Regions from separate parts of the Homo sapiens genome. Here all the other regions are reported to be linked to region 1. Evidence: microRNA targets listed by miRTarBase, many of them from high-throughput screens and not tested one by one. Region 1 holds a microRNA gene; each other region holds the end of a gene's coding sequence. Distances are from middle to middle.
Evidence for each region. The annotated mature microRNA hsa-miR-4478 reads GAGGCUGAGCUGAGGAG and lies in region 1 at 1,519-1,535, opposite strand. An mRNA with a match to its seed (bases 2 to 7 or 8) in the 3' UTR can be bound and repressed. Matches are read on the target gene's strand: a 7mer-m8 pairs with bases 2 to 8, a 7mer-A1 pairs with bases 2 to 7 and ends in A, and an 8mer does both.

Region 2: miRTarBase lists LRRC47 as a target of hsa-miR-4478. Seed matches in the 3' UTR shown: 7mer-m8 at 1,099-1,105 and 7mer-m8 at 1,272-1,278.
Region 3: miRTarBase lists PADI1 as a target of hsa-miR-4478. Seed matches in the 3' UTR shown: 7mer-A1 at 1,830-1,836.
Region 4: miRTarBase lists AQP6 as a target of hsa-miR-4478. Seed matches in the 3' UTR shown: 7mer-A1 at 3,765-3,771 and 7mer-m8 at 3,089-3,095.
Region 5: the mRNA of DCD is a reported target of hsa-miR-4478. Seed matches in the 3' UTR shown: 8mer at 3,319-3,326.
Region 6: miRTarBase lists CD1D as a target of hsa-miR-4478. Seed matches in the 3' UTR shown: 7mer-m8 at 1,553-1,559.
Region 7: the mRNA of SLC35D2 is a reported target of hsa-miR-4478. The part of its 3' UTR that is shown has no 7-base or 8-base seed match.

What each region holds. Positions count from the first base shown.
Region 1 is chr9:122,118,629-122,122,843 of GRCh38, forward strand. It overlaps MIR4478 (microRNA 4478), which reads right to left and starts at 1,539; the gene lies at 1,454-1,539.
Region 2 is chr1:3,777,762-3,781,976 of GRCh38, reverse strand. It overlaps LRRC47 (leucine rich repeat containing 47), which reads left to right. Exons shown (of 7, transcript NM_020710.3): 6 at 376-465; 7 at 641-3,418. The coding sequence ends at 889. Among named protein-coding and RNA genes, the nearest start is that of SMIM1, 7.1 kb to the right of the region's middle.
Region 3 is chr1:17,243,094-17,247,308 of GRCh38, reverse strand. It overlaps PADI1 (peptidyl arginine deiminase 1), which reads right to left. Exons shown (of 16, transcript NM_013358.3): 16 at 1,302-3,299. The coding sequence ends at 3,066. Among named protein-coding and RNA genes, the nearest start is that of PADI3, 3.9 kb to the left of the region's middle.
Region 4 is chr12:49,975,230-49,979,444 of GRCh38, reverse strand. It overlaps AQP6 (aquaporin 6), which reads right to left. Exons shown (of 4, transcript NM_001652.4): 4 at 2,306-3,980. The coding sequence ends at 3,774. It overlaps LOC105369764 (a long non-coding RNA gene), which reads left to right and starts at 3,940. Exons shown (of 3, transcript XR_001749143.2): 1 at 3,940-4,147.
Region 5 is chr12:54,641,336-54,645,550 of GRCh38, forward strand. DCD (dermcidin) reads right to left here. Exons shown (of 5, transcript NM_053283.4): 4 at 3,838-3,927; 5 at 3,254-3,421. The coding sequence ends at 3,378. Among named protein-coding and RNA genes, the nearest start is that of DCD, 4.9 kb to the right of the region's middle.
Region 6 is chr1:158,183,939-158,186,938 of GRCh38, forward strand. It overlaps CD1D (CD1d molecule), which reads left to right. Exons shown (of 6, transcript NM_001371762.2): 5 at 1-97; 6 at 191-2,489. The coding sequence ends at 212. Among named protein-coding and RNA genes, the nearest start is that of CD1D, 4.5 kb to the left of the region's middle. RefSeq lists an enhancer at 1,751-2,264.
Region 7 is chr9:96,318,053-96,322,267 of GRCh38, reverse strand. SLC35D2 (solute carrier family 35 member D2) reads left to right here. Exons shown (of 12, transcript NM_007001.3): 11 at 188-270; 12 at 927-1,558. The coding sequence ends at 1,026. SLC35D2-HSD17B3 (SLC35D2-HSD17B3 readthrough) reads left to right here. Exons shown (of 26, transcript NR_182427.1): 11 at 188-270; 12 at 927-1,270. Among named protein-coding and RNA genes, the nearest start is that of HSD17B3, 18 kb to the right of the region's middle.

The sequences.
Region 1 (4,215 bases):
AGAAAGTGCCTATACAGCACTTCTTTAGAACAGCACCAGGCACAAAAGAAGCATGCAAAATGTTAGCTGGTGTTATTTGTAACTTTTTTTTTTTTTTTGAGACAGGGTCTTTCTCTGTCACCCAGACTGGAGTGCAGTGGCACAATCATGGCTCACTGCAGCCTTGACCTCCTGAGCTCAAGTGATCCTCCTGCCTCAGCCTCCCAAGTAGCTGGAACTACAGGCTTGAGCCACCGTGCCTGGCCGTTTGTATCATTATTTACAGTGTTTAGTATTAGGCAGTGCTGCCCCTGGATTCTGTCCCAGGCAGAGCTGAGTAATAGCTGCCCCTTTAGATGAAGTGTGACCTCTTCCATTGTCCACAGCCCACAACCCCAGGGACCAAGGCTGAGGTCCTAAAAAAGCCAACACTGTGTAGGGGCCTGACTCCTGGCTGCTATGTGACTTTGGACAGTCACTCCCTCTGTCTGGGCCAGTGTCCTCACTTATAAACCAGAGGCACAGGGCCCTGAAAACATTATGCTAAGTGAAAGAAGCCAGACACGGAAGGCCACATAATGTCTAATTCCATTCCTACCAAATGCCCAGAATACGAAAATCCATGGAGACGAACAGTGAATTAGTGGTTGCAGAGGCTGACGGAATGGGGAGTGACATCTCATGGCCACAGGGTTTCTTGTGGGGTCACAAAAATGTTCTGGAGCGCCATAGTGGAACCGGTTGCACAACCTTATGAACACAGTCATGCGTTACTTAATGATGGGGATACGACCGGGCACAGTGGCTCATGCCTGTAATCCCAGCACTTTGGAAGGCCGAGGTGGGCGGATCACCTGAGGTCAGTAGTTCGAGATGAGCCTGGCCAACATAGCGAAACCCCATCTCTACTAAAAATACAAAAATTAGCTGGGTGTGGTGGCACGTGATTGTAATCCCAGCTGCTCAGGAAGCTGAGGCAGAAGAATTGTTTGAACCCGGGAGGCGGAGGTTGCAGTGAGCCGAGATCGTGCCACTGCACTCCAGCCTGGACGACAGAGTGAGACTCCATCTCAAAAAAAAAAAAAAAAAAAAGATGGGGATACATTCTGAGAAATGTGTCACCGGGCAATTTTGGTGGGCAAACTTACATGAACCTAGATGGTGTAGCCTACTGCACAACTAGGCCACATGGCATAGCCTATTGCTCCTACACTATAAACCTGTACAGCATGGTACTGTGCTGAATACTGTCAGCAATTGTAATGCAATGCTAAGTATGTGTGTATCTAAATATATCTGGATGGTTTCCCTGCAGGTAACAGCTGGCTCTGATGTCCTAAGGAGACCCCAGCGCCATGACAAACCCAGGGATCTCTGATTGCTCCCAGCCTGAGTCGCTTCATATCCTACATGGGAGGCTGAATCCACAATCCCTCCTGCAGACGTACCCTCTCCTCTCCCTTGTCCCTGCAGAGGCCAGGGCTGCAGGGGATGAGGCTCGCCCCTAGTACTGCATGACCCTGTCTACAGGTTTGGAGGCTCCTCAGCTCAGCCTCGGCCCCTGGGCTCTTGTCTTGCTAAGCCCAGAGACCCAGCTCCCACTGGGCTTGGTGGCTGCTTGAAGTGGATCATGCCTTGCACCTCCCCCTCCTCTCCAGAATCTTCTATGTGTGCCGAGACTCCCAGAACAGGAGACATTTGGCTACATCACCCAAGATGGTGCCCACTTTCCATTGCCATGGGTCTAAGAAAAGGTGAAGTTCCCTCCCCCAGCCCTTCCCTGCCTGCTGAGGGATAGGACATGTGTCCCCATTTGCAGTGGATGCAGGGAGGGCTGGAGAAATGCTCTGTGCTCTGAGTAAGGCATGTTCCCCTGTAAGTGTGCCCATGACAGCTTGTGTATGCATATGTGCATGTATGGATATGCATGTTTGTTGGCAGGGATCTGTGCACATTTGTAGGTCTGCCTTTCTACCCGTCTTGTGTTCTGGACTGTGCACATATCTGCCTTGACAGACTTATCAATGTTCACACACTGGCTACACCTGTACCTTGTCTATATGTGTGGCTGCGTGCGTGAGTCTGCTGGAGCTCAGCACTTGTGTGGCTGAGCTGTTTACACCTGTCTGAATATGAGGGGTGTGTTCACGTGTCCCCTGAACGCACACTAGTGCATGTGTCCCTTCTGTGTGTGTCAAGGCAGGCCGCACGGCCATGAGGACCATAGCCCAGGCCTTGGAAGTTTTCCACGAGCTTAGACTCCAGCACCCACTGCACATGGCAAATGGCACCAGTGACCTGCCGTGGAAGGCACAGATGCCAGAGGGCACCACTACTCCAGCAGGAGCAACACCAACAAGGCCAGCACCAGCCCCACCCATGGCCTCCAGAGATCCTGGAGCCTGGAGGGCCCAGACGAGCTGGCAGCTCCAGGCTCCAGGCTCCTCAAGGTCCCACAGACAGGCCAAAATCCAGACAGCGGGAAGGGACAGCACAAGCCGGAGCCTGGGGACCAGAGGCAGTTTGGGGGTGCTCCATGGGGCCACACCCCAAGCCTGCTCTACATATTCTTCTAGGGCTCCAGAAGTGGGGAAAACCACAGGTGGGGAAGGCTGCCCCACAGGTGTACAGGTACAGGTGTGAGGCTGACATAGGTGGGTGAAGGATCAGAATCAAGAAGAGGAGATACTTCCTGCCTGATGAGTCTCTAGCTGTCCCCTCCAGGGCGCAAAGCCCCAGCACCTCCTTCTCTCCTGTCTTTGGGGCACCCAGCCATGGCCCCAGCCCCTTGGGCTCCAGCAGCAGCAGCAGATACAGGAGGCTGAGGCTCAAGTGAGAGTGGCTAGAGGGCAAGTGAGCTGAGCAGGTGGAGGCCAGACCACCCTTTCCCATCCCAGCTGGCCCGGGCCACAGGTGCCACTCGATGAGGCCTCAGCTAAGCACCGAGACAGTTGCCCTCAGACAGCCCACGCCAGCCAGCTCCCTGCACCAACCGGAAGCTCCTGCGGCACCTGGCACCACCCGAGGCCCGCCTGGGAAAGAGAGGGCCTGAGAGCCAACTCAGCCTGGCACCCGGGAGGCGATGGTCTGGTGAGACTTGGGAAGCTGAAGGTCCTGCCCCAGGTGGAACTCAGAAAGATAAAGAAATGGCAGCTCAGAGATAGGAGGGGACTTGCATAGGCTGCCTGTCCAGGCAGCGGCCAAGCTCTTGTGACTGTAGAGTCCTTTATTACCCTTTCCCACTCCCAAGCCAAAATGCTGGTACCAGGACCCAACTGAGTCAGATCCATCTTCAGTTTCCCCTAGACACCCACCCAGTGGGCTCCAAGAGGCCAAATCCCGGGGACTGGACCCCTAGGACAAGTCGGTGACCCAGGGTTGCCTGCCCTTCTTTGCCCCAATACCAGGACTGCCCTGGGCCTATAACATGCTTTCCTGAATTCTGGATAGGTCTCCCTACCATAGCTCAGAGAGGGTTGCCCACTTGCCCAAGATCACACAGCCGGGGAGCTGGCACCGGACAACTGGCCCGTGGGTGTTCTCCTGTGTCACTGTCCTCGGCTGCCCTGGGCTGGCCCAGCTTCTGAGGGGAAGGGGCCCTCCACAGAGGTACTGTCTCCCCAGGCCACCTCTTGCTCCTGCCCTGGCTTCAGCTTCCCTGCCACCCACCAGCAGTGATCAACTAAAGCCACACTTTGTCAGACATGGAATGAGGCTCCAACCCTGACTCCTTGTCCCCAGCTGAGGCCACCAGCAGCCACCAGCACACCAGCCCCTCTGAAGATCTGATGGCGGCCCAGAGCCAGGAATCAACTGTCGTGACCCTCACATTGCCCCTCCCACCAACTGGCACCAAAGGACTGCAGACCCACAGGGCAGCACTGGGAGGCATCCCAGGATAGGGTGGGGCTGCCTCAGAGACCTGAGGACCAGCAGTGCTGAGGAGACTCTCATGCTCTTTCCCTCCTTGTCTCGATGAGCCCTGAGGCCCAAAGAGGGCACAGGTGCTGACATGTCCCAGAGAGGGCAAACAGTGGCAGGACAAGGAGCCTGCACAAAGAGCCAGAGCTCTGCCCTGGGGGCAGACAGAAGAGGCAGAGGCAGCCCCACCCCCACCCCAGTACTCCCCGTAAGAGGAAGCAGAGGCCACCTTCACAGACGGTCGCTGCAGGCAGGTTTAACCCAAGCTCATGGGATGGTCTGTCCTCACTCAGCTAACCTTGCACACGCCTGTAG
Region 2 (4,215 bases), not on the chromosome of region 1:
ATAGGTCTTGCTGTGTTGCCGAAGTTGGAGTGCAGTGGCAAGATCATAGCTCACTGCAGCCTCAAACTCTTGGGCTTAAGCGATCCTCCCATGTCAGCCTCCTGAGTAGCTGGGACCACAGGTGCATGGCACCACACCTGGCTAATTTTTGTATTTTTTTGTAGAGATGGGGTCTTGCTGTGTTGTCCAGGCTGGTCTTGAACTCCTGAGCTCAAGCAATCCTCCCACATCAACCTCCCAAAGTGCTGGATTTACAGGTGTGAGCCACTGTGCCTGGCCACACAGTTTTGTAGATTTTTCCTGAGAACAAATGTTGCAGTTGCTGATGTCTACATTTGATAACTGTTCTTTTCTGAAATGTTTTTTTCTTTTAAGGTTAAGAAAACGACTTCTGATTTGTTTTTGGAAGTAACAAGTGCCACCAGTCTGCAGATTTGCAAGGATGTCATGGATGCCCTCATTCTGGTGAGTGTGGGGTGGCTCCTCCTGAGAAACGCTTTTGAGCGTGAGTGGTGCTCTGCTCCTTGACTTCCCACCCGTCCTGCTTGCCTCTTTTTTGCTTACTGTGTTGGCAGACAGCAGCATGTCTTCCCTGGGTCACCTCTCATCTCCAGGTTAAAAAGGTATTTTTTATTTGCAGAAAATGGCAGAAATGAAAAAGTACACTTTAGAAAATAAAGAGGAAGGATCACTCTCAGATACTGAAGCCGATGCAGTCTCTGGACAACTTCCAGATCCCACAACGAATCCCAGTGCTGGAAAGGACGGGCCCTCCCTTCTGGTGGTGGAGCAGGTCCGGGTGGTGGATCTGGAAGGGAGCCTGAAGGTGGTGTACCCGTCCAAGGCCGACCTGGCCACTGCCCCTCCCCACGTGACTGTCGTGCGCTGACGCCAGGGCCGCCTGTCCGCGTTTGTTTGGCCGGTTTTGCGGAGGTTTCTATGCGGCAATGCTGAATTATCCGTTAGATTTTCACCCCAGTTTTTTTGTTGGTTTTTTTTTTTGAGATGGAGTCTCGCTCTGTCGCCAGGCTGGAGTGCAGTGGCGTGATCTCGAGTCACTGCAGCCTGTGTCTCCTGGGTTCAAGCGATTCTCCTGCCTCAGCCTCCCAAGTAGCTGGGACTACAGGTGTGTGCCACTAAGCTCAGCTAATTTTTGTATTTTTAGTAGAGACGGGGTTTCACCATTTTGACCAGGATGGTCTTGATCTCTTGACCTCATGATCTGTCCACCTCTGCCCCTCAAAGTGCTGGGATTACGTGATCCACCCGCCTCAGCCTCCCAAAGTGCTGGGATTACAGGCGTGAGCTGTGCCTGGCCCACCCCAGCATTTTTTAAGATGTATGTATTCGTTGTTCTGTTTTTCCAGATGATTCTGTCGTAAAGTGATGCTATGTTGTCGTTACAACATCAAAGTGATTTTACGGTTTTTGATGGGATTATTCAAGTGTCAGAATTAACTGTTCAAAATGTTCTGAATCATGTAGATACATGGCAGGTAACTGTTTATGGGAGAAAAGTACAGTGCTGTTACGTGGCACTGTACAGTCATGTGCCACGTAACAGCGTCTGGGTCAGTGACGGACACTTACCTGACAGCGGATCCACAATATTCTCGTGCAGTGTGTTTGGAATCCTGGTCTGGGCTCTCGTCGTTGGCCTTGTAGATCAAGTAGGGGAAGTGAGTGATGTTCAGTCATGCTGCTGGGACACTTGGTTTTCCAGATGAAAACACATAAATAAAACTACATGCACCATCGAGGCTTGTGTAAAGACTCTGTGATCACACAGCAGCGGCTAAGCACACGTTTCTCATGTGTCACTGAGCGACACGTGACTGTCACTGGTTCGGAGACCCGAAAACTTGGGAAGCCAACCGATGTGCGTTTCCTTGAACGGCACGGTCACTTTCTATGACGCAGCATCTTGTAAAACCATATCATGCCAGGATGCAGCTTGGCATGTGCAAGGGCGTTGGGTTCTCCAGCTGGCAGTGATCATAATCTTGGGGGGAAAAGTTTTAATGTGACCTTAGAATTGGCAGAATTGCGTCTCTTCATACTGCTGTTGGATTGCTTTGTGGGGGTGGAGATGTGGAGACCCCTTCAGGCAAGCAGCCTGTAGGCTGAAGGCAGTGGCAGCACCTCACCCTGGCTCAGCGGGGCCAAGCGGAGGAGAGCGGCATCGGTGGGGTTTCCATCGTGTGCACGCTGGTGCTGCAGTGACAGGCAGGTGGAGCCCCAGGAGTGGACCAGACGCCTCTGCTTGGGAAGCATCGGCAGTCCTCAGCCAGCCGAGGGACAGATGGTAGCAAAAGCTGGAGGATGCTTAGGTTTTTGAGCCAAAAATCTTCATTTATGCGCCAGAAAGGTGGGTCCTGGGCGCCTTCTGTTGTAGACGTTTCCGTTGTGAATGTCCAGGTCAGACCCCCACGTCCATGTGTCTTCGTGTATGTCCAGGCACCACATGTGCGTGCACACCACTCCCGGGAGTCAGTGTGCTTGGCTCATGAGGACACGGCCAGCCACCGCGATGATTTTACAGACCCCACTGCCTTACGATCTGGGTGCCATGTGAGAAGCAGACTCATCAGCTTTATCGAATGACACCATTTGTTCTCTGTTCAGTGTCTCGATTTCTGTGTCTGTAGAAATGACTGGTGATTTTGGGAAGCATCTGCAAGAGCCCCACAGCCCACACACCTTTAGTTGTCAACCTGAGAGGCCCGGGGCCCTGTGCAGTGGGCAGACTAACAGCTGGGTGGCTCTTCAGAGCCTTGCAGGACATGGGCCAGGCTGCCTTGAGACCTGGACCCACTTGTCTGGTCACCGCCAGGCCTTCCCGTCTCGCCCACTGTGGGAGGGAGGGGACTCCAGACAGGACGAGGCCCACACACTCAGTGCCAGCTGGACTGCCGTGGGTGTGTCAGATGACTGCCTTGCCTTGTGTCCTCCCAAAACCTGATTCCTGCTGCTCTGGGCAGTCAAGGCAGATGCCACAGTTGGCCAGGGGCCTGCCCTGCTGGAGGCTTGAGGCGGCACGGGGGCTTCCCCAGGCCAGGACTCTGCTGGAGTTCTGGGGCTGGGGACCCCAGACAGTTGCTCTGAGAGGTGATTTGGGGCTGCCATGGCAGAGGCTGCCCTTTCTCTGCATGGCCCGGCCCAGCCCGGGAAGGAGGAAGGGAGGAAGGGAGGGATGCTGGAGCTGCCATCTTGGCTCCCGGGGACTTGGTGTCCATGCTGTAACACATCTGTCACTGCGTGGGTGTGGATGAGGCTGCCACATGCTGTGCCCTTTCCTGATGCAGCTTGTGATGCGTGAGATGCTGGAAATGTATTTAACTCGCAGCACAGGTGTCTCTGATGTTTTCTTCACCCCACCCCACCCCCCGACTCACTAATAAAAACAGCTCCGCACCTGGCCCAGCAGATCCTTTCCCACCGGCACTGCCAGAGGTTGTTGCTCGAAGTGTCACAAAGCTCACTCTAGCCCAGTGGTGGCTTCTATGTGGGGAGGCTGAGGGCCTCCTGTCCCCACCCAGATCTTGCCAGCAGGGAGCAAGAGGCACCTGCCACTGTCATGGGGAAGCTGGTGCCCTTGACCAGGGGTCCTGGGAACTGGCCTCACCCTGCTGGGCCCCTGCCTGGAGCACAAGGTGGACCAGAGGTGTCGGGCTGCCTGGATACCCCAGGTGCACAGTCAGAGGAGCCCAGGCCCCAGACGCATCCACAGCAGATCCTCCTGTTCGTGAGTCTCTGGGAGGGTAGGCCAGGCGGCCACTCAGCAGGGTCCTGTCCCATCCTCTCCCCAACCCTCCCAGAGCTGTAAGGACACTGCTCAGCTCAGCCTAGGTCCATGACCCTGGGGGTACTGGGGCTGGAGCTGCTGTCTCCACCATGGTCACTTAGGGGACAAGTGGTGTGCCCGAGAGGCGGCTGTGGGTTACTTGAGTGCCTGGCCCAATGAGCACCCGTGGGTGTCTGCCTGTAGCCTCCCCTGCTGGGGCTGGCAGGGCTGCTGGTGGAGCCCCTGGCTGAAGATGCTGGGCCCCTGCCAGGGCGGACCCAGATGCAGCCAGACAGATCCAGGGCAGACCCGACATGCGCCTGTGCCATCTGATGCCAGCCCCTGACAGGTGGGAAGGAGCATTTGTGGGGGTGCGTGGGCATCACTGGCATGCGGGACCCGTGGCAGAAGCACCAGGGCCACTTCCCCTC
Region 3 (4,215 bases), not on the chromosome of region 1:
ATTGTCATTCCCATGTCTCAGTTTTTGGGAAAGATGTTCTTTTCAAGGAGAACTGCTGGGCTTCTGGGTCAAGGGACAGCTTCACTTTTTTCAGCTGTGGAATGGCTTGATGGCTGAGTCAGCCTTGGGAGCCCTGGGTAAGAGTTCGAGCTCAGGAGGAAGCCTTAGTCTCCCTAGCCTTCTTGTGAGCACAGATGGGGAATAGATGCAGAAAGTAGGGGCTTTCCCTGGGGTGCTGGCCCACTACCTGCCTCTTTCTCGGAGAACTGTATATGTCTTTGGAAGGAGACTCATGCCTTCACTTCTCCTCTGTTAATACCAACTTTTAGAAACAGGTTTGTGGTTAATTCAGACTAAAGTGTCAATGACTAATAGGCAGCAACTTTTTGCCCTCTTACTCCACAACAAAAGCTAAAATAAAGTGAGTGAGTATCAAACGGTGTAATTTGAGGCAGCAGCAAATGTGTAGGATGAGAGGGTGATGATTTCAGGCATCCAAAATCAGACCACTGAAGCCAGGTAACTTAGAAGCTTCAGACACAAAAATGGAAGGGAATTGGGCCAGGCACAGTAGCTCACACCTGTAATCCCAGCACTTTGGGAGGCCAAGATGGGAGGATCGCTTGAGCCCAGGAGTTTGAGACCAGCCTGGGTAACATAGCAAAACCCCAGCTCCGTAAAAAATAAATTAGCAATTAGCTGGGCATGGTGGCCTGTGCCTGTATTCCTAGCTACTCAGGAGGCTGAGGTGGGAGGATCGCTTGAGCACAAGAATTCAAGGCTATAATGAGCTGTGATAGCACCACTGCACTCCAGCTTGGGTGACAGAGCAAGACTCGGTCTCAAACAAAAGAAAAGAAAACAAAACAAAACGAAAACCAGAAAGGGAACTGTAGTGGCCTGTGGCCCTGGGAACCAGCCCTGCTGGGGAACTCTCACCTCTGTTAATAGGGCCCGGGCTGCCTCCCCGACCTGTTGTCCCTGAGAGATGGAGGGGATGCTGAAGGAAGAGAGAAGAGATGAAGAGGCAGGACCCATCCCTCCCCTGATCTGATCTCCATCTTAGCAGGGCCATCAGCCCCAGAGCAAGAGGCAATGTGCCAGCCATCCTGCTGAATCAGCCTGCCTGGCACTGGCCGTGGCACTGGCCGTGGCACTGTGAGGCTCTCCTAGCTGAGCAGGGGCCGCCTGTGGCAGCAGAAATTGAGCCAAGCAGCTTCATAGTGGATGGAACTGGAAGCAGTCTTCTCCGCTTTCCTCCCCTCCTCCCCAACCCAACAAACAGGCTGGGTAGACAGCCCTGTAAGAAATGCATGTCGACATTTTTATTGATCAGAAAGTAGGTGACTGGTCACCCAGAACATTCTCAGAGCCAACACCAGGGCCCCTCGATGGCCCAGCAGCAACTCCAGAGCTTCCCACACTCAGTGTGGCCCCGACCCCCAGCCCTATCTCTGCAATGCTCACTCCCTTCCTACCCACAGCTCTTTCTCAGGGGAGTCCCAACCCCAGCTCACACCCCCGGCCCCTTCAGAGCCTCCTTCTCCTTCTTGACTCAGTGCAGGCTGGGGTATGATCCTGAGCAGAGGACGCTCAGGTTAAAGCAGGAGCTTGCAAATAGAGTTCTGTAGAACCTTCCAGAAGGGGATTTTCAGGTTCCCGCTCACCCACTTTAACCATAGCAGTTCCAGGCTAGCTTTTGTTGGTTAAAACAGTGACAGTAGTTGGCTCAGTGTGAGGTCTCAGCAGGGGCCACTGAAAACCTAGATGGACCGAAGCCCTAGGGCCAACTGCCCTACAATGGCCTCACTGGCAGTGGGGGAAGAGGGTAGGCTGGCTTCCTCCTGCCCGTGCCCTGCAGCCCAGCTGAACCAGCCTGCCTGTGCATGTCTCAGTGACCTCACTCCGGGCTATTAACCTCCCGTGGCAGCTGTCTTCCCTACTGTGGGAGGGGACATGGGCCTGCACAGCGGTTTATTCAGGGATGAAACCTAAGCTATGTGCAGGGTCCCTGGGTTGCTGAGAGAGACCGGGCAAGCCTTCCCCTCCCACTGCCTGCAGAATGAAGGGGAATAATTAAAGACTATTAAAGGAAATTAAACTCCACCTTCAGAGATAACCTAATTTCCTCCCAACACACACACCCTCTTCTAACATCTGGCCCCCTACCCCTGCTACATCTGGAAGCTCCAGCTCCCTTCAAATCCAGAGTCCAAAATCCCAGCCCAGGAACCACGGACACCTCTAGGCCCCCAAATCCGTCGTCACACACTCTGCTACCCTGACCTCATCCCCTCCTGCCCCGTCATCCTTTGTGTGTCCTCAGGCCTCACGTTGGCTTCTCAGCATTTCTGAGCTGGGAGAAGCCAGCTCTGGTAATTAAAGTCTTTCCAGAAAGGTAGCAATCACTCTTCTGAGGTCGGAGTCAGCTATTAAAATTTTGTTGTCTTTTTTTCTATTTAAATTGGCCCTTGGACACTGGGTTTTTCTGTCCTTGTTTGTCCACACACAGCTGAAGGGTGCTGGATGGGGGTGGAGGTAAGTGTCACAGCCTTGGGTCCCCTTTGGGAGAAGAAACCTAGAGCGGGGAGAGGATGTTTCTGATCCCCTTTCCTAGTTTTCCAAGAGCAGAGGCAGCCTGGTGCCTGGCACACCAGACCCCAGGTCCCCCAGGCCCCGTTCCAGGTGCAGATGCAAAGTCATTATCCTTGTTCCCCAGGGAGGCATCAGAATGAAGGGGGAGCAATTCTAAGTGGGGCCCATCTCCCTAGGCCTCCCACAGCCATTCTGGAACATGCTAACATTGTTGATCTAGAGCCTCTGGGGGCTGTGGGTGGGAAAGAGGCCAGGGAAGAATGAGGTGCATTCTTCTCGGGTTGGGTAGGCCATTCCAGAGGCGAGGGTAGGTGGTATCCATCCCTGTGTCCTGGTGCCCATGGTGGCCAGGATGTTTGCAAAGTGCCAAGACTCCCCCAAGAGAATGGAGGCCAGGTGGTTGTTCCTTGCCTTCACCCTGGCAGGGTTCCCTAGCAAGAGGGCAGAGAGGATGGCGGGTGGGGGCAGGCTCAGGGCACCATGTTCCACCATTTGAAGGGAAAGGGCTTCCTGCGCACGTTGGTGCCACAGTGGATCTCCCCCTGCAGCTCGTGGTAGGACAAGTAGTCATCAATGAAGATGCAGTGCAGGCCCAGAGGCTCCAGCAGGGACTGCACCTTCTCCTCCAGGCAGCAGCGGCCATTGATGATGGGCCCGTAGGGCTTGGGGATGCCCAGGTACTTGCCTAAGACCACCATGTTAACCTGCAAAAGAGAAAAGGCAAGAGGGAGGCTGTCTGGCTATAAGTGCTGTGCTTCTGGCACCCCTTCCTTGCCAGAATGAGACAGGCCCTGGGGAATGGGTTGGCCATAGCCACAGCCTAGAAAGGGCTCTAGGACTGGAGTTTGCTCAAGAGTTAGGGCCTATGAAAGCAGAGGAGAAAAAGATTCAGGGTTGGAAATGAGGTTGAATAACAGCCAGGACTACCAGGAATTTTGTACATTAAAAAACAAAAACAAAAAACAAAAAAAAACTTCTCCCACTCTTTCTTTCATCTATGAGAAAATTGTCATATTATAGCAACTTTGTTAGAACAAGAGATTTTCGTGTCATCTGCCAGAAACTTGTACAACAAATATACACACCTACAAGGTCTGTGGTGTGGATGTCTTCCAAAGTGTGGTGTGCTTTTGCTGTGCACAGCTTGCTTAACTGTCTTTGGCAGCCCTGATCATTGTTAGCATTTATTGAGCATCTTTTATGTGCCAGATATATCATCACTAAATGCCACAGCCTCCCTCTGAAGCTGTGGCTCAGACAGGTTAAGTCACATAATCATACAGCCAGAGAATGATGAGACTGACATTTGGACTTGGATCTGGCTGGTGCCAAAATCCATGCTTTTTATCTGGCCACCTGTGGGACTGAGGAGTTGGGGGAAAGGGCTGAAAAAGCCTTTGGGGACACTTGAGTTTAACTCTGGGGGCACCTCTCCTTCCCTTGGTTGCGGACCTGGCTTGGGGCCCTAATCTGGGGATGGGAATTCTCCCCCATGCTGTGCTATGGGGGTTTCTTAGAGGAAATCTCAGCCCAGGTTGATGGCAAGAGGTCATAAGGGGTGACCCTTGGTGTTCAAAGGGGACTCCGGACCTTCTCTCTAGAGGGCGGCTCTGGGCTGTC
Region 4 (4,215 bases), not on the chromosome of region 1:
AGACAATCATCAACATAAAAGGCTAATTGTATTAATCACCAAGGCACCCGGCCCGAGTCCCCCTCCCTTTGGGGAGAATTATGAATTGCAATTGCAGATGGCTCCACTGATTGAAGGCAGTGCTCAGCAGGGAGAAGGGTCAGATCAGATTATACACCATTAATTAAAAACTTCCCTGACAAACAGGAGGAAGGGAATGCACACCAAGGGCTGGCCTGGTTGGGTCTCTGTCCTCCCCATGTCCCCTGCCCCCACCCAGGCCCAGGGGCTATGCCAATGAAGCCTGCTTCCCCCAGCTGGAGCTACTGAGATTCAGCTCTCCAAAGGCCAGCCCTTCCCTCATCCAAACAGATGGCCTGCTGTCCTATTAAAGGGCTCCAGAGGAGGGGAAGCGAACCTTTGGTTACTTATTTCCACGTCTAACCTTGGATGCTCTTCAGAGGCTAACCTAATTCCCCACTTCTCAGGAAACTTATTTCCTCCTGCTCTGTCCTGACAGAACTGCTTTGAAGAACTGTTAGTGAAAATAGCCCCTCAGCTTTCTCTTCAGGCAACCCCTCATATTTTGGCCTGTATGTTCCTGGGACAGACATTGTGAAGCCTGCTCTGAAATTGTGGGTGGAACAGCAAATATCTGGCGATGCACCCTCTCCCCAGCCCCTGCCTGGAAGCATAGGCTTCTCAGCTGCTGTCATACTGGCTTATTTGGAGCTGTAACTCCTGAAATTTTCTCCTCTTGATCTATTACTGCCTCCCATCCTCCCCAACTGCCCAGCCTTATTCATTCATCAAACTTATATTGAGCACCCAGTGTGTGCTTGGCTCTGGGGACAAAAAGCAGTGATCATTTGTCAAGGAGCTTAAGAGCCTACCATAGGAGCTCCACGCCCCCATCCCCTTCAATCCTCTAGTTCCTGTTTCCTTCCTTCCTGGGGCTGCAGCTTGTATGAACCCCCCAGGAGCTCTATTTTGGAAAATTCTCAACTGGGAGCTGGGGAGACCTTAAGTGTTCGTGCTCCTGAACCAGGTGACCTTGAGCAAGTCAATCATGTCCTCTGTTTACACATACGCTCTCATACATGCATACATACAGACACCCAGCTCTCCCTGCTCATAAAAGGACACAGGCAGCCTTGGACTCTGAGAGATTGTGAAGATGGATGAGTGGGGCCCAGCTTGGAGAGATGTGAGTAGTATCTGCGCTGATATTACAGAACGCTGAGCACAGCTACTGGGGCTATGAGCACCAGGGATTCAGCTACTGCACTGGTCACAGGCTGGGCCTGCCACACTGCCCTTGGAAGACTTGGGCAGCCTTTCCCCCATCCCCAGTCCCTCAGGAGACATCACTAAAAAGGATCTATCTTTTGTTTGTATTTTAATTTAATTAATTTTTCATTTTAAATAATAGAGATGAAGTTTCACTATGCTGCCCAGGATGGTCTCAAACTCCTGGCCTCAAGCAATCCTCCTGCTTGGGCCACCCAACATGTTGGTGATTACAGGTTTGAGCCGTCATGCCTGGCTAAGTTTTTAATTTTTTGTAGAGGCAGGGTTTTGCCATGTTGTCCAGGCTGGTCTCGAACTCCTGGCCTCAAGCGATCCTCCCACTTTGGCCTCCCAAAGTGTTAGGATTACAGGTGGGAGCCACTGCACCAGGCCAGGACCCATCTTTTGTTTTGTTTTTTTTGTTTTTTTTTTTGAGACAGAGTCTTGCTCTGTCACCAGGCTGGAGTGCAGTGGCGTGATCTTGGCTCACTGAAACCTCTACCTTCCGGGTTCAAGTGATTCCCCTGCCTCAGCCTCCCAAGTAGCTGGGACTACAATCACGCGCCACCACGCCCGGCTAATTTTTTATATTTTAGTAGGGACAGGGTTTCACCATGTTGGCCAGGATGGTCTCGATCTCCTGACCTCGTGATCTGCCCGCCTCAGCCTCCCAAAGTGCTGGGATTACAGGCGTGAGCCACCGTGCCTGGCCGCCAGGACCCATCTTTTATATGAATTTGGCTGCTGCATCTTAGGGTACCATGGTGATGGGCGTCATAGAGATGAGAAGAACTGATTTTATTGGTTCGCCTCTTCATTCCAGGGCCCTCCCACAGCCCCTCACACCCACAAAGCCTCAAGGTCAGCAGACCCAGGAGAAGAGCACACAGGGTCCCTGGTTAAGTAGATCCAATGATGTGAGAGAAAACCCAGTCTCTCTTCCCTCCCTCTCAATCATCTTTCTCTCTCTCTTTTCCCCTCCTCCCTCTCATTACCAACAGCAATTGTCTTCATACCCAATAATTACAGTAACAGCAACAATAATCATCATTTATTGGGGTTGTTTTTCTAGCATTTTAACTTCTGAAAGTATTTTCCGATTTCTTGATTTCACAGCAGTCCCTGGAGGAGGATTGTGTGTCCATTTTACAGCTGGAGAAGCCGAGATCCAGAAAGGACCCCCAAGTTGTGGGCAGAATAAATCTACAGCAGCTTTTAACTATTAAACCAACTTAGATTTTGGTAGTCTTTCAGAGGCACTGAATCTCAAATCTTAGTTTCCTGGGTCCCTCCTGGGTTCCTACCACCCTTAGGGCTTATTCAACAGCTTTCTGGGGATCCTGTAATGCTGACAGAGAGCCTGGAGACGGCTTCTTTGACCCAGGTCATGAGTCAATGGCTAGATGGGCACTTCCCCTCTGAGGATTGTTCCTGCCTGAGAGTGGGCTGTGGGGTGGGAGCTGGGGCAAGCACCTGGGAGGAGGCTTCCCTGGGAAAGGCCTGTCTGGCTCAAACCTCCCTTCCTCTATCCCACCTCTCTACGAGCCTGAGAAAATGTTCTTCTCTGTGTCAGTTCTTCTCAAGGGTGGGGGCCTCTCCAGAGCATTTGGAGGATTGAGGAATAAAGACCTATTGGGAGAGGCCGGGCACGGTGGCTCACGCCTGTAATCCCAGCACTTTGGGAGGCCGAGGTGGGCAGATCGCCTCAGGTCAGGAGTTTGAGACCACCCTGACCAATATGATGAAACCCCATCTCTACTAAAAATACAAAAAATTAGCTGGGCGTGGTGGCAGGCGCCTGTAATCCCAGCTACTTGGGAGGCTGAGGCAGGAGAATCCCTTGAACCCAGGAGGTAGAGGTTGCAGTGAGCCGAGATCATGCCACTGCACTCCAGCCTGGGTAACAGATCAAGATTCTGTCTCAAAACAAACAAAGATCTATTGGTAGAGCAGTCTCTGTCCTCAGGAAGCCCCCAGTCTGAAGGAGGAAATATAGCCCCCAAAACCACACCCAAGGTCAGAGAAACACCCCCAGGAGCTCAGAGGCTGTCCCAGGGCCTGATTCCTCCAGAAAGCCTGTCCTCTCTGGACCAAGGGTTTCCTGGGTGGGTAAGAAGCTGGGGCTCCCTGAGGTCCCTATAGCTCCCATGTCTAAGCAGAGTGGCTGTCTGGGCTCCCATTCCTTTCTCCCCCAAGACTTGGGCATCTGGGGTCAGGACTCCTACGGGGTCCAGTGGGTGAGAGGATGGGAGGGCGATCCTAAATCCCCTGCCTTCCTCTGCTCTGTCCCACCGAGAGGTGGGGAAGCCCTACAGAGAGGGAATGGGACAAATTCACTCCCAGATTCTACCTAGAAACGTAATGCCAGGGATAGGGCTTGTCCCCTCCAGCCCACCTGGTCAGGACAAAAGGTCAAGCCTCCCCCTCCCGCCACCCCCAGGGAGAACCTCCAGGCAGGTCCTGCAAGGCAGGAAGCCCAAGGGCGCGGCCAGGCGTAGGCTGTTTCACACACTCTCCATCTCCACGGCTCCCGAACCCGGCTGGGATTCCTTCTTCAGGGGCTCCGCCCCTGCCCCTGCCCCTGTCCCCACCTCTACGGTGCCTGTGAGGATAGCCAGCCGCTGCGCCAGGGTCTTGGTGTCGGGGAACAGGACGAAGTTGTAGATCAGTGAGGCCAGGAGGGCTCCCATCAGGGGCCCCACCCAGAAGACCTGAGGAGAAGGATGTCGTCACCCCACCCAGGAGCTATCAGGACCACAGGGTGGCTCTGGGACCGCTGCCTGCTTCCCCAGTGCCGACTTGATCTCCCAGGTCTCCCTCAACTGTCTGTAAGGTGCTAAATTTGAGAACCACGAGTCGTGTTTCCCAAGCCCACAAGGTAAGGGGACCTTGCCCCTTGCTCTCCCTGCCCTCCCTGGGGCTGAGCCCAGGCTCTGCAGCCGTGGC
Region 5 (4,215 bases), not on the chromosome of region 1:
TAGGTGCGATGATAAGTAGTAATTGTCCTTCCCTTTCAGGTGCAGGAAATCAGGAGGAAGTGGTAGAGTTGGAGCAAATTGGAGTGTGCCTGCCCTTTGTAAAGTGGTCAGCTGTCTCTGCCTTGAGCGGATGGCTGCCAGACATTCTAATTCTTCAAGGAAAATTGGAAATCTGGATTTTCTTGTAAAACTCCTAATTTTCTTATTATTTCAGAACACTTCATTTAATATTTTTACTTTGTATTATTTTAAAGCTAATTAATTTAAAAATTGACAAATGAAAATTGTATATATTTATCACATACAATGTGATGTTTCTAAATATGGTTGCATGTGGAACAGCTAAATCAAGCTAATTAACATATGCATTACCTACTTTTTGTTTTGAAATAACTTCAGACTTACAGAGGATTTGTAAAAATAGTACAAAGAATTTTCACATCCTCTTTCTAGATCCAATGGGGACTTGAGCTCCCAAATGTCAACATTTAATTGTGCTTGCTTTATCATGCTCTTCCTTTGTTTCCATCTCTTTGCTTTTTCCTTAACATTTTGAGAATTAGATTTGAATTTTTAATATACATAACCGAAGACCCCTTTAGAAATGGCTGTCCTTGATTCTTTTTTTTCTTTTTTTTTTGAGATGGAGTCTTGCTCTGTCACCCAGGCTGGAGTGCAAAGGAGCAACCTCGGCTCACTGCTGCAACCTCTGCCTCCCAGGTTCAAGTGATTCTCCTGCCTCAGCCTCCTGAGTAGCTGGAATTACAGGCACACGCCACCACGCCCAGCTAATTTTTTTGGATTTTTAGTAGAGATGGGGTTTCATCATGTTGACTGGGCTGGTCTCGAACTCCTGAGCTCAGGCAATCAACCTGCCTCGGCCTCCTAGAGTGCTGGGATTACAGGCGTGAGCCACTGTGCCCAGCCCCTTGATCATCATTATGATGACAAATCCTGATGCTTGTGGGTTTATTTTTAGAAACAATATTTTCTTGAATAGGCAGGACTTGGTGGAGTTTGTTTTTCTTCAAACAGTGCTCCCAAATACGGATAGTCCCCGACTTACAATGTTTTGACTTTACGTCGGTGAGAAAACAATACACATTCAGTAGAATCCATACTTCTAGTACCCATAAAAGCACACTGTTTTCTACTGTCATTATGGTTTTCAATAAATTACATGAGCTATTCAACACTATTAGAAAATAGGCTTTGTGTTAGATGATTTTGCCCAGTTTTGGGTGAATGTAAGTGTTCTGAGCACGTGTAAGGTAGGCAAGACTAAGCTATGATGTTCAGTAGGTTAGGTATGTTACATGTACTTTTAACTTATATTTTCAACTTATGATGGGTTTATCAGGCTGTAACCTCATCCTAAATTGAGAGGCATCTTGTATGTGTTGTTAAATCTCCCTTTCCCATTTATTGATGACAAATTTAGAGGATTCCATTTATTCTAGTTCTTTGTGGTTGTTGAGAGTCCATCCAGTATAAAATCTTACCTCCCTTTCCTTTCCCCAGCATATACTTTACTGGAGAGACATGAAAAGGGGTGGGGTCTGGTTCTGGATCTCAGGCAAGGTGGGATGGGGCGGACAGAGATCTTCTAAGGTCACTGATCACAGTCAATGAGGGAGAAATCCTGATCTCCTCCTGGCTTGGTCTCCATTCTTCTGCTCCTCTGGATGCCTCCACTGATGCAGGGTGTGGTGGTCACCAGATAGTTGGTGATTAGCTTCACCTCAGCCCTGCCATTGCTGTGGAAACCCTCAAAGAGTGGCAGTTCCTTTGGGCCAGTGGCCCACAGTCTCAACCCTCTCACCAGGTTCTGCCTCCTCCCATCCAGCTTGGAAGCCCCCAGTGCAGCTTCTTGGCTTTCGATCCCTCTTCTAAATGCACTCATGAGAGCAATGGGAATCCTAAGTTCTCTTCCTTGCTCTTTAGTGGCCTCAGGAGCTTGGATGAGAGTGTCTTCTTGCATCTCTTCCACAGGCTACCATGAAAAACTTCTTGCTTCTAGAAATGTCAGACGATAAACAGGTACCCACCTTTTTGTTCACTTTGCCCTGTGGCAGAAGTTGCTACAGGGAGACAAACATTCATTTTGACCATCCTACTGCTAGGCATTTCCAGTCCTTGCAGTTAGGTGTGGTCACTGGGAGTGGGTTCTTATATAACTTGTTAGTATAGCTCATACAAACCTCCAAGCAATCTGTTCCATGCTCCTTCCCCCTTTCTGTAGTTGGAATGGTGATAAGATGACAGAATGATCTTGAAGCTAGATATTGAAGGTGGCAGGGCTGTTGGCATCCTGGAATCCTTAAACGACTCTGTGGAGAAGACAGACTATTGCCTCTTTCCCCCAAATCTGGAGCAAACCATCTTGACTTGTACATGTTTGTGCAATTATATCTTGGATTATTGTTTATAGTAGATTAGCCTTCCCTAATTAATATAATCTTGATGCCTAGGGACACGGCTTTCTCAAGAGCTGTCCTACTGTGCTCCAGTCTGGGCAGCTTCAGGTCAGTCTAGAGGGTGCATTCAGCTGGGGATGGGAGGTTGGTGGGGGAGATGCCTGTCTCCTCCTGGACTGGAACCTTCAATCTAGGAGTGATTTCCACAGCCCTTCACTTGACTTGAAGGGTAGAAGAAGCATCTCCCTCCCTTCTTCCATGGAGATCTTCAAGAAAAATCTCTTTGCTATGTGCACTGCTTTCCCCAGTGCTCATCAGAGCCAGTGACCCTGATGATTCCACTTTTCTCCTTCTCCACGGGGTAGCGAATGATAGTTCTGTGATTGATTGGGATTGGGCTGGCTTTTCTAGCTCTAAGGAAGTCCCAGGGTGGTGGGCAGGCTCCAGATGTCAGAAGTTCTCCATGGAATGTGGGGTATTTGGGGGGTCTATGATTCTAGCTGTGGGTCCTAGAGCCAAATCCAGGGCAATGAGAAAAGTCCCACTCAACACTGATGCATAGTAAAATGGCATTGGGCAGGCAGAATGAGGGATAAGGAGGCAACCAGTTTGGGACTTGAGGCTTAGACCCTGCAGATATGGGTGAGGGGCTGGGCATGAATCAAAGAACTTGCTGGAGCTGTGCTCTCTGGGAAGGCTGGGTCTGGAAGCTGTGTTTCGGGAGGAAGGGCCAGGGTGCCAATTGAAGCCTCATGGAGTGCTCTTCCAACCTTTTGGGCTCCTGGCCAGGTTTCATACCCCATCTCTTCTTAAGGAAAACACACACATACTCCAAGTATTACAGATGCTTTCAGTTTAATAGCTGTTTTAAATTTTTTTTTTTTTTTTTTTTTTTAGGTTTTAGGCTGAAGACGTAAAGCCTGCTGCTCCTGGGTATCATTTCTCAGCTTCTCCTTACAGCTATAGTACTGAGTCAAGGACGTCTTTAACGTCATGGACGGCTCCTAGGACAGCCACAGAAAAAAATGGGGTAAAGGGGTAGGAAGAAAAAAGGAAGGGAAAGAGAGCCAGGGAATTGGGGAAGGAGAGGTAGGGGAAGGGGAAGGGGAAGGGAGGCCTGGAGGTGCTTACACAGAAGTCAGAGGGATGGAGGTTAGATTCACAGGAGCCCCAAAGACCAACCTCTCTTCCCCACCTTGGCAGGGGCAGGGGGCAAGAGCAATAAAAAAAAAAGCAAGTTAGACCCCAGGAAGTATCAATATCAGACAAGAATGGCAATTTAAATCTGGATGAGGAATTGGAGACATTTGAAAGCACAAAGTGAGGGGTCTTCAATGGGGGGGCTGTGGCAGTTTCAGATCTCATGCAAGGGGTGGAGACTGAGGCTGGTCCTGAGGGAGGAGTGGGGACATATACTCACCTTTACCCACGCTTTCTAGATCTTCGACTGCATCTTTTCCTAGTTTTCCGAGTCCCCCCACAGCTTTTTTTGCTCCGTCTAGGCCTTTTTCTAGGGTGGATTCAGAAAAGAAGAGGTCATAGAAGCAGAAAAACTACTTCCTTTGTAGGAGAGCTCCCCCGCTTCCTAGGCACCATGGGCACCCCTAAGGTGAAGTGGTTTTGCTGAAGGAACCAACTTCTCTGTCATGGGAAGGTTGGTAGGCCAGTATTAGCTGCAAAACCTATGGCCCAGAAACCCTGTATGTAGAAGCAGGTGTGCACCCCAAGCCCTCCCTAGGAATATGGGTGTAGCTGTGTCCCTGTGCTTGTGCCTGTGAGGGCAGACTGGCCCCCAGAT
Region 6 (3,000 bases), not on the chromosome of region 1:
GGAGCTACACCTCCATGGGCTTGATTGCCTTGGCAGTCCTGGCGTGCTTGCTGTTCCTCCTCATTGTGGGCTTTACCTCCCGGTTTAAGAGGCAAACGTAAGTCTCCCCTTTCCCTTTCCTCAACCTCTCTCCCCTTCATTCCTGGCTTCCCTTTTCCTTAATGGTCTTTCCCTTTCTATTCTCTCACAGTTCCTATCAGGGCGTCCTGTGACTCGCCTTGCCACATCTGTGTCTCTGGAACCCAGGACCTCTGGACCTCAGGTTCCTAAGACTTCAGTCCTGGTCTGCTCAGGAATTGAAGATGTAAGGAATTGAAGATAGGAGAGATACCTTGAAAAAGTAGAGAACAGTCATGAGGCAGCTTTCATCACACCCTTTTAACATTTATCTAAAAGAATTTAAATTCTTTTTCAAAAATTACACTACAAGTTTATAAGCCCAAATGGCTCTGTGAAATCAGAAGTGCAAAGGTGTGCAAACTTGTATCTGAAGACCTACCAGGGACAAGCAGGTAAGAGCTGATGTGAGTGTGTGTGATGGGATCTGTAAGGAACTGGAACACACATGTCCTATCCAAAGGAATCAGCTGCAGCTGCTTGTTGTCAAGTATAAAGTCAGGACCTGGCTTGGCTTTAACCGTTTTTCAAGAAAACTGGAAATCTGGATTTTCAGCGAACATGCCTGATTTTAAAAGGTTGACTCAAGTTTTTACAAAATACTATGTGGGACACCTCAAATACATACCTACTGACTGATGACAAACCCAGGAGTTTGTGTGTCTTTTATAAAAAGTTTGCCCTGGATGTCATATTGGCAGTTGGAGGACACAGTTTCTATTGTAAATTTGGATTTACGACTGAAGAAGGACATTTTCTCTTTAAAAGAAAGTTAGGTTATAAGAAACAGAGGCGTCTCACATTTTTACTTGGTGTAATTAATAAACGAAGATAAATCATAGTGTATGTGTATTATGTTGAAAAAAACTACTCTGAGTAAGGATATTTCTCTCAAATGGTCATCACTTTTTTTCCTTGGAGGAAGATTGTCATGAAGGCATCCCTTCCTTCCCAAAACGACAACGGCAACAACAACAGTCTCCTTTACTTACAGCTATTAAAAGAGACAATGTAGGGAAAGGGCCAACACCACTTGGGCAAGCATGAGCTGCAGCGATGATGGTGATGGTAGCCCAGCCATGCTGTGTTCTTATCTTAGAGAGGACAGAGCAGGAAACTTACAGGGGTAGCAGACCTTTCTGATGCCAAAGAAATAAGGAGGCCAAAATCATGTTTGCCTAGCTGGGAGGTAAATCTCTTGGCAGTCAGGGTCCCTGAACACCCAGAAAAAATAAGTGAGACTTAACGGTTGGAGAGTGTTTGCTTGAGAAAAGTAACATTTCACACTCTCTATACTAGACTTGCACATATGAATTTAGGATGTGCGTGAAGATTCTGCTAGCTTCAACATATCCCAAAGCACTTGGATATGCCTATAATCCAAGTGCTTTGGGAGGCTGAGATAGGAGGATTGTTTAAGGCCAGGCATTTGAAATCAGCCTGGGCAACATAGTGAGACCCTGTCTCTACAAAAAATTAAAAAACTAGCCACCCATGGTGGTGAGCGCCTGTAGTCCTAGCTACTCTGGAGGCTGAGGTGGGAGGATCCCTTGAGCCCATGAATTCCAGGTTAGTGTGAGCTGTGATTGTGTCACTACAGTGTAAGGATGACAGAGGGAGACCCTGTCTTAAAAAAAAATTATGCTAGCTTTTAAATCAATGGTTCCCAAATTGTAGTAACCTGACCAACAGCCTCAGCAGGACCTGGGAACTTGTTATAAATGCAAATTGTTTTGGGCCTCATCCTATACCCGCTGAATGAGAAACTCTGAGTCTGGAAGCAGGCTCAATAGTCAAGCCCCCTGGTGATTCTGATGCTTAGCTAAAGTTAGAGAACCACTGTTCTTAGACATTGTGCAATGTTATACAACAACTTCCTCAAAGTGCTAAGTGAAAAGGACATTGGCCTGGCGTTAGTCAGGGAAGGCGTCCTGGAGGGAGGGGAATTTGAAGCAGAGCTTTGAAAAACAAAGGCAGTGAGGTGAACCAGCAAGTGCACTGGCTGAGGGGACTGGAGTTCTAGCCTCTGAACCAGTTTCCTCCTGTGCCAAAGGAGGATAATAATTATCTATTATTGATTATCTCCTAGACTTGTGGAGTTCAAGTGTGTAATGCCTTAAAAGATGTGGAGGCTGTTGCTGTGTTTGGTACCACATTGCCCACCCTCACGTGGCGCTCTTCAGCTTAGGTTCCTCTAGCAGTGTCAAGTTTGTGAACCAACCCCACTGGCCTTCTGCATTCTGAGGGCACGTGTGTTAAAGTCTCTACTGATGTCCTTTTGGAAATGCCTCTGCATGAATTTATGGTAGCTCTGACTCATCTTTAAACAATTTTAATTTATTTAGAAAATAAAGGCTTATCTCTCCAGGAAATTTTTTCTTCCTTCAAATAAATACTCAGTTCCAAATATCTCAGAGAATCCTGAGAATTCATTTTAGAACATGTTAATACTCTTTTTATGAGTATCATGTTTCTTACTGAGTGTTGTGCTGATTGTGAATTTATTACCACTCTGCTCCAAATTCATTCTTCATAATAGGCTCAGTGACAATGAACAGAGTTCCTTTAAAAAGTCAGCACATTGTTAAGCTTTTTCAGTAAAGGGCCCCGGAGGGACACAGCAGGAGGAAGGGGCTCTCCTGCAGCTTCCAGCTACTGCGTGGTGGGTCAATGAAGTGGGTGGGAAGACATCCTGTGTGGCGCTGCCTGTGGTCCCTGCCCCTCCAAGTACCCCATTCTATCTGCAGACCCTCGCATCTCCTGTGCTTAATCCACCCACTGCCTGGAGGTTTCCACTGAGCAGTACTTCCTCTGCAAGCCCCTGCCTCAAGCCAGGAGGGTTTCTTCCAGCTTATCTAGCTACTTCAGGCCAGCTTTGGCCTG
Region 7 (4,215 bases), 26 Mb from region 1:
GGATTACAGGCGTGAGCCATCATTCCTGGCCTGTAATGGTTTTTATTTTGTTCAACCACCTGTGAATATCCCTATGTACAAGTCTCTATGCAAAGTAACTAAAATGTCTAGTTTCAGGTTTTACTATTTATATTTTCCCCTAAACAGTTTACTTTTAAAATGACGAATCCTCTCTCTTTTTCTGCAGAATGTATCCGTTGCCTACATTGGGATATTAATCGGTGGAGACTACATTTTCTCTTTGTTAAACTTTGTAGGGTTAAATATTTGGTGAGTGGGAATTTTTAATGGACTCGCTTTGGGAAGACAAGAACCTTAAACACTCTGATTAATATGTAATAAGCAAAAGAGCCTGGAGAAGTCTTTCACGTTAAGCCAGGAGGCGTTTTGACATTCTAATTTCTAAGATAATTTTACTTCATCACTGGGTTCATCCTCATGCAGATCCATGGGGACACGTGTGATGGCAGTTTGCGGGGCTGGGATCGGAATTTAACTCACCTGTCTTCCTCACAGCAGGCCCCTGCGTTCTCTGCCCTCCTCCTATAAAGTGGAGGGTGTTAACCTTTGTGCCCACTAGGCTCGGCATGCAGGGGGTGTGGACTAAGCCAGCTTTGAAAGGCATTTGGGGTCTCAGCAGTGGGATACTATTTAAGGCTAAGGGTATGTAGTTTATTCAGTAGAAACCAAGTGCTTATTTTCTCTCTGAGGTTCTGCATTAGATTTGATGACTCTTTTTCTGCCTCCAAAGGCTTGTAAATAAGGGGAAATTCTCATCAAGCAATCCACAAACTTGAGGAGAAACACAGATATTGGAATAATTCCCTCCGCATGAAGCAGGTGTATTGATAAAAACGCCAGCAACTGCTGCTGGAGCCCCTGTGAAATTCCCAGTCATTTATTTTCACTTTTTTTTCTCCTTTCAGCATGGCAGGGGGCTTGAGATATTCCTTTTTAACACTGAGCAGCCAGTTAAAACCTAAACCTGTGGGTGAAGAAAACATCTGTTTGGATTTGAAGAGCTAAAGAGTCTGCAGCAGGATTGGAGACTGACTTGTGACTGCGGGCTGGGGGGGCATTCCCAGTAGGAATGTGAAGCCAGAGGTTTCGGATTCGTGACATCCACCCCCTGGGCAAGTGAGAGCATCTGCAAAATGCAAAGAGAACTACCTCATATGCAGGATGAGCCAATGGCAGTCTCAAGAAATGTACTCGGGCGACACCTTACCTGTGGAAAGCAAATCTTTTCAAAATAAGCCACTGGGACTCGGTAGGTGGAGCCCCAGCTGCTCTTCTAGGGACCTATGGGGCCTTCGTGGCATCTCTGTGCTGTGTGCTGGGGAGGAGGTTGATGTAATGGTGACTCTTTTCTGATCAGCACCTTGGCCGTGATTCCCAAGGTCCCAGCCAAAGCAAAGGGCCAGTTGTTTCAGTTTAAACAGACATGTCTTTAGTCTAATAAAATTAGTTAACTGCCAGTAAAGTTATTTGTTAGCTTTGATGAAAGCTATGTTGGTATCTTTCCCTAATCATCAAAGTAAATAAAAAATCATTTCTATGTATGCCTCATCATGTGATATTATTGGAGGCAGAAAACGGTGCCCATCATTCACAATGTAACAGAATGTGTCACCTTGAAGGGACAATTCCAGACTCCTTTATGACTCGAGGTTGGGGAAAGCTACAAAGTAACTCAATGGGAAAAAAAAAATACTCAGGCTTTATCCTGTTAGCTATTTTTTTTTTTTTTTTGAGACAGAGTCTCACTCTATTCCCCATGTTGGAGTGCAGTGGTGCAATCTCGGCTCACTGCAGCCTCTGCCACCCGGGTTCAAGTGATTCTCTTGCTTCAGCCTCCCGAGTAGCTGGGATTACAGGCATCTGCCACCACGCCCTGCTAATTTTTGTATTTTTAGTAGAGACAAGGTTTGGCCTCATGTTGGCCAGGCTAGTCTTGAACTCCTGACCTCAGGTGATCTGCCCACCTTGGCCTCCTAAAGTGCTGGGATCACAGGCGTGAGCCACCGAACCCGGCCAATCCTGTTAGCATTTAAGCGCTCACCTGTTTGTTTCTTCTCATCTCCCTCCAGGTTTGTTCAGGAGCTTTTACCACAGGTGCATTTCCTCACATGCTCACCTACCGCCAACCCCTGGTGTATGGGAAGGAGGCCCAAATGGATAGGGTGCCTTTTCCCTCCCTGCGTGGGAATGGGTGTCCCCACTGGAACTGGAGTGCGGGATAGAGCCACAGTCTGGGAGTCAGGAGCCAGACTAACTAATCTTGTCTCTACTATTAAACTCGGGAGACCTTTCCCAAGTCACTTGGCCCGTTGTGGCCTCTAGTATTTTAATCTGTAAAATTCAACTAGATCTCTAAATCCTTGCAAGCTGCAACTTTCTGAGTTTCGAGAAGCTGAGCCAGATCTGGAGCAGGCCAACACAGGAAGGAATCGTGTGGATTTTTATGTGGCTGGGTGCGGCGGTTCACGCCTGTAATCCCAACACTTTGGGAGGCTGAGGTGGGAAAATCGCTTGAGCCTAGGAGTTTGAGGCCAGCCTGGGTAACATGGCCGAAACATCATCTCTACAAAAAAATTAGCCAGGCATGGTGGCGCACACCTCTGATGCCAGCTACTGGGGAGGCTGAGGTGGGAGGATTGCTTGAGCCTGGGAGGTTGAGGCTGCAGTGAGCTGTGGTCACGCCACTACACTCCAGCCTCAGTGACATGGTGAGACCCTGTCTCAAAAAAAACTTTTTTTTTAAATTGTGGTAAAATACATAACAGACTTTACCATCCTAACCATTTTTAAGTGTATACAGTCCAGTAGGAGTAACCATACTGATTGTGCAACCTACCTCTAGAACTTTTTCATCTTGCAAAACCGAAACTCTGTACCCATGAAACAAGAACTCCCATTTCCCCATCCCTCCGGCCCCTGGCAACCCCCATTCTACTCTCTTTGTGAGTTTGACTATTCAAGATACCTTATATAAGTAGAATCACATAGTTTTTGTGACAGGTTTATTCACTTAGCACCATATCACCGAGGTTCATCCATGTTGTAGCATGCAGAGCATCCTTCCTTACGTCTGAATGTGTGGTGTGGATTTGCCGCATTCTGTTTATCCAGTCATCTGCTGATGGACACTCGGCTTGCTTCCACCATTTGGCTATTATGAACAATGCTGCTATTAATATGGGTGTTCAAATATGTCTTCAAGGCTCTGCTTTCAATTTTTTTAGATATATGCCTAGAAGTGGAATAGCTGGATCCTGTGGTCTTTCTATTTTTAGGTTTTTGAGGACCTGCTATGCTGTTTTCTATAGTGGCTGCACCATTTTACATTCCCGCCATCAAGGGTTCCAATTTCTCCACAACCTCAATAACATTTGTTATTTTCTGTTTCATTTTTACTAGTAGCCATCATAATGGATGTTTTAAAAAATAATTTATTTTTATTTTATTTTGTTTTTAGAGATGGGATCTCACTATGTTGCCCAGGATGGTCTGCAACTCCTGGGCACAAATGATCCTCCTGCCTCAGCCTCTGGAGTAGCTGAGACTACAGGCTCACCTGCCTGGCTGTGTTTTGGTTTTGATTTGTATTTCCCTAATTAATCGATTAGTGGTGTTGAGCATTTTTTCATGTACTTGTTGGCCATTTATTTATCTTCTTAAATAAATGTCTATTCAAGTCCATTGCCCATTTCTTAATCAAATTGTTTGTTTTATTGTTGTTGAGTTGTAGGAGTTCTTTACTGTTTCAATACGCTTTTATATTTAATTTATTTTATTATTATTATTTTTGAGAGAGAGTCTCACTCTGTCTCCCAGGCTGTAGTGCAGTTGCATGATCTCGGCTCACTGCAGTCTCCATCTTCCAGGCTCAAGCGATCCTCCCACCTCAGCCTCCCGAGGAGCTGGGACCACTACTAAAAAATTAGCCTGCCTAATTTTAAATAGTTTTTGTAGAGACAGACTCTTGCCCTGTTGCCCAGGCTGATCTCGAACTCCCAAGTTCAAGTGATTCTCCCACCCTGGCCTCCTAAAGTGTAGGGATTACAGGTGTGAGCCACTGTGCCCAGCCTTCAATGTGCTTTTAAGAGGCTTCTGGAGGGCTGGGCATGGCAATATGGCAAGATCTGTGTCTACAAGCACAAATAGTAAGATAAAATAATTAAAAGGCTTCTGGAGTGTAAACTTGGAGCTCCC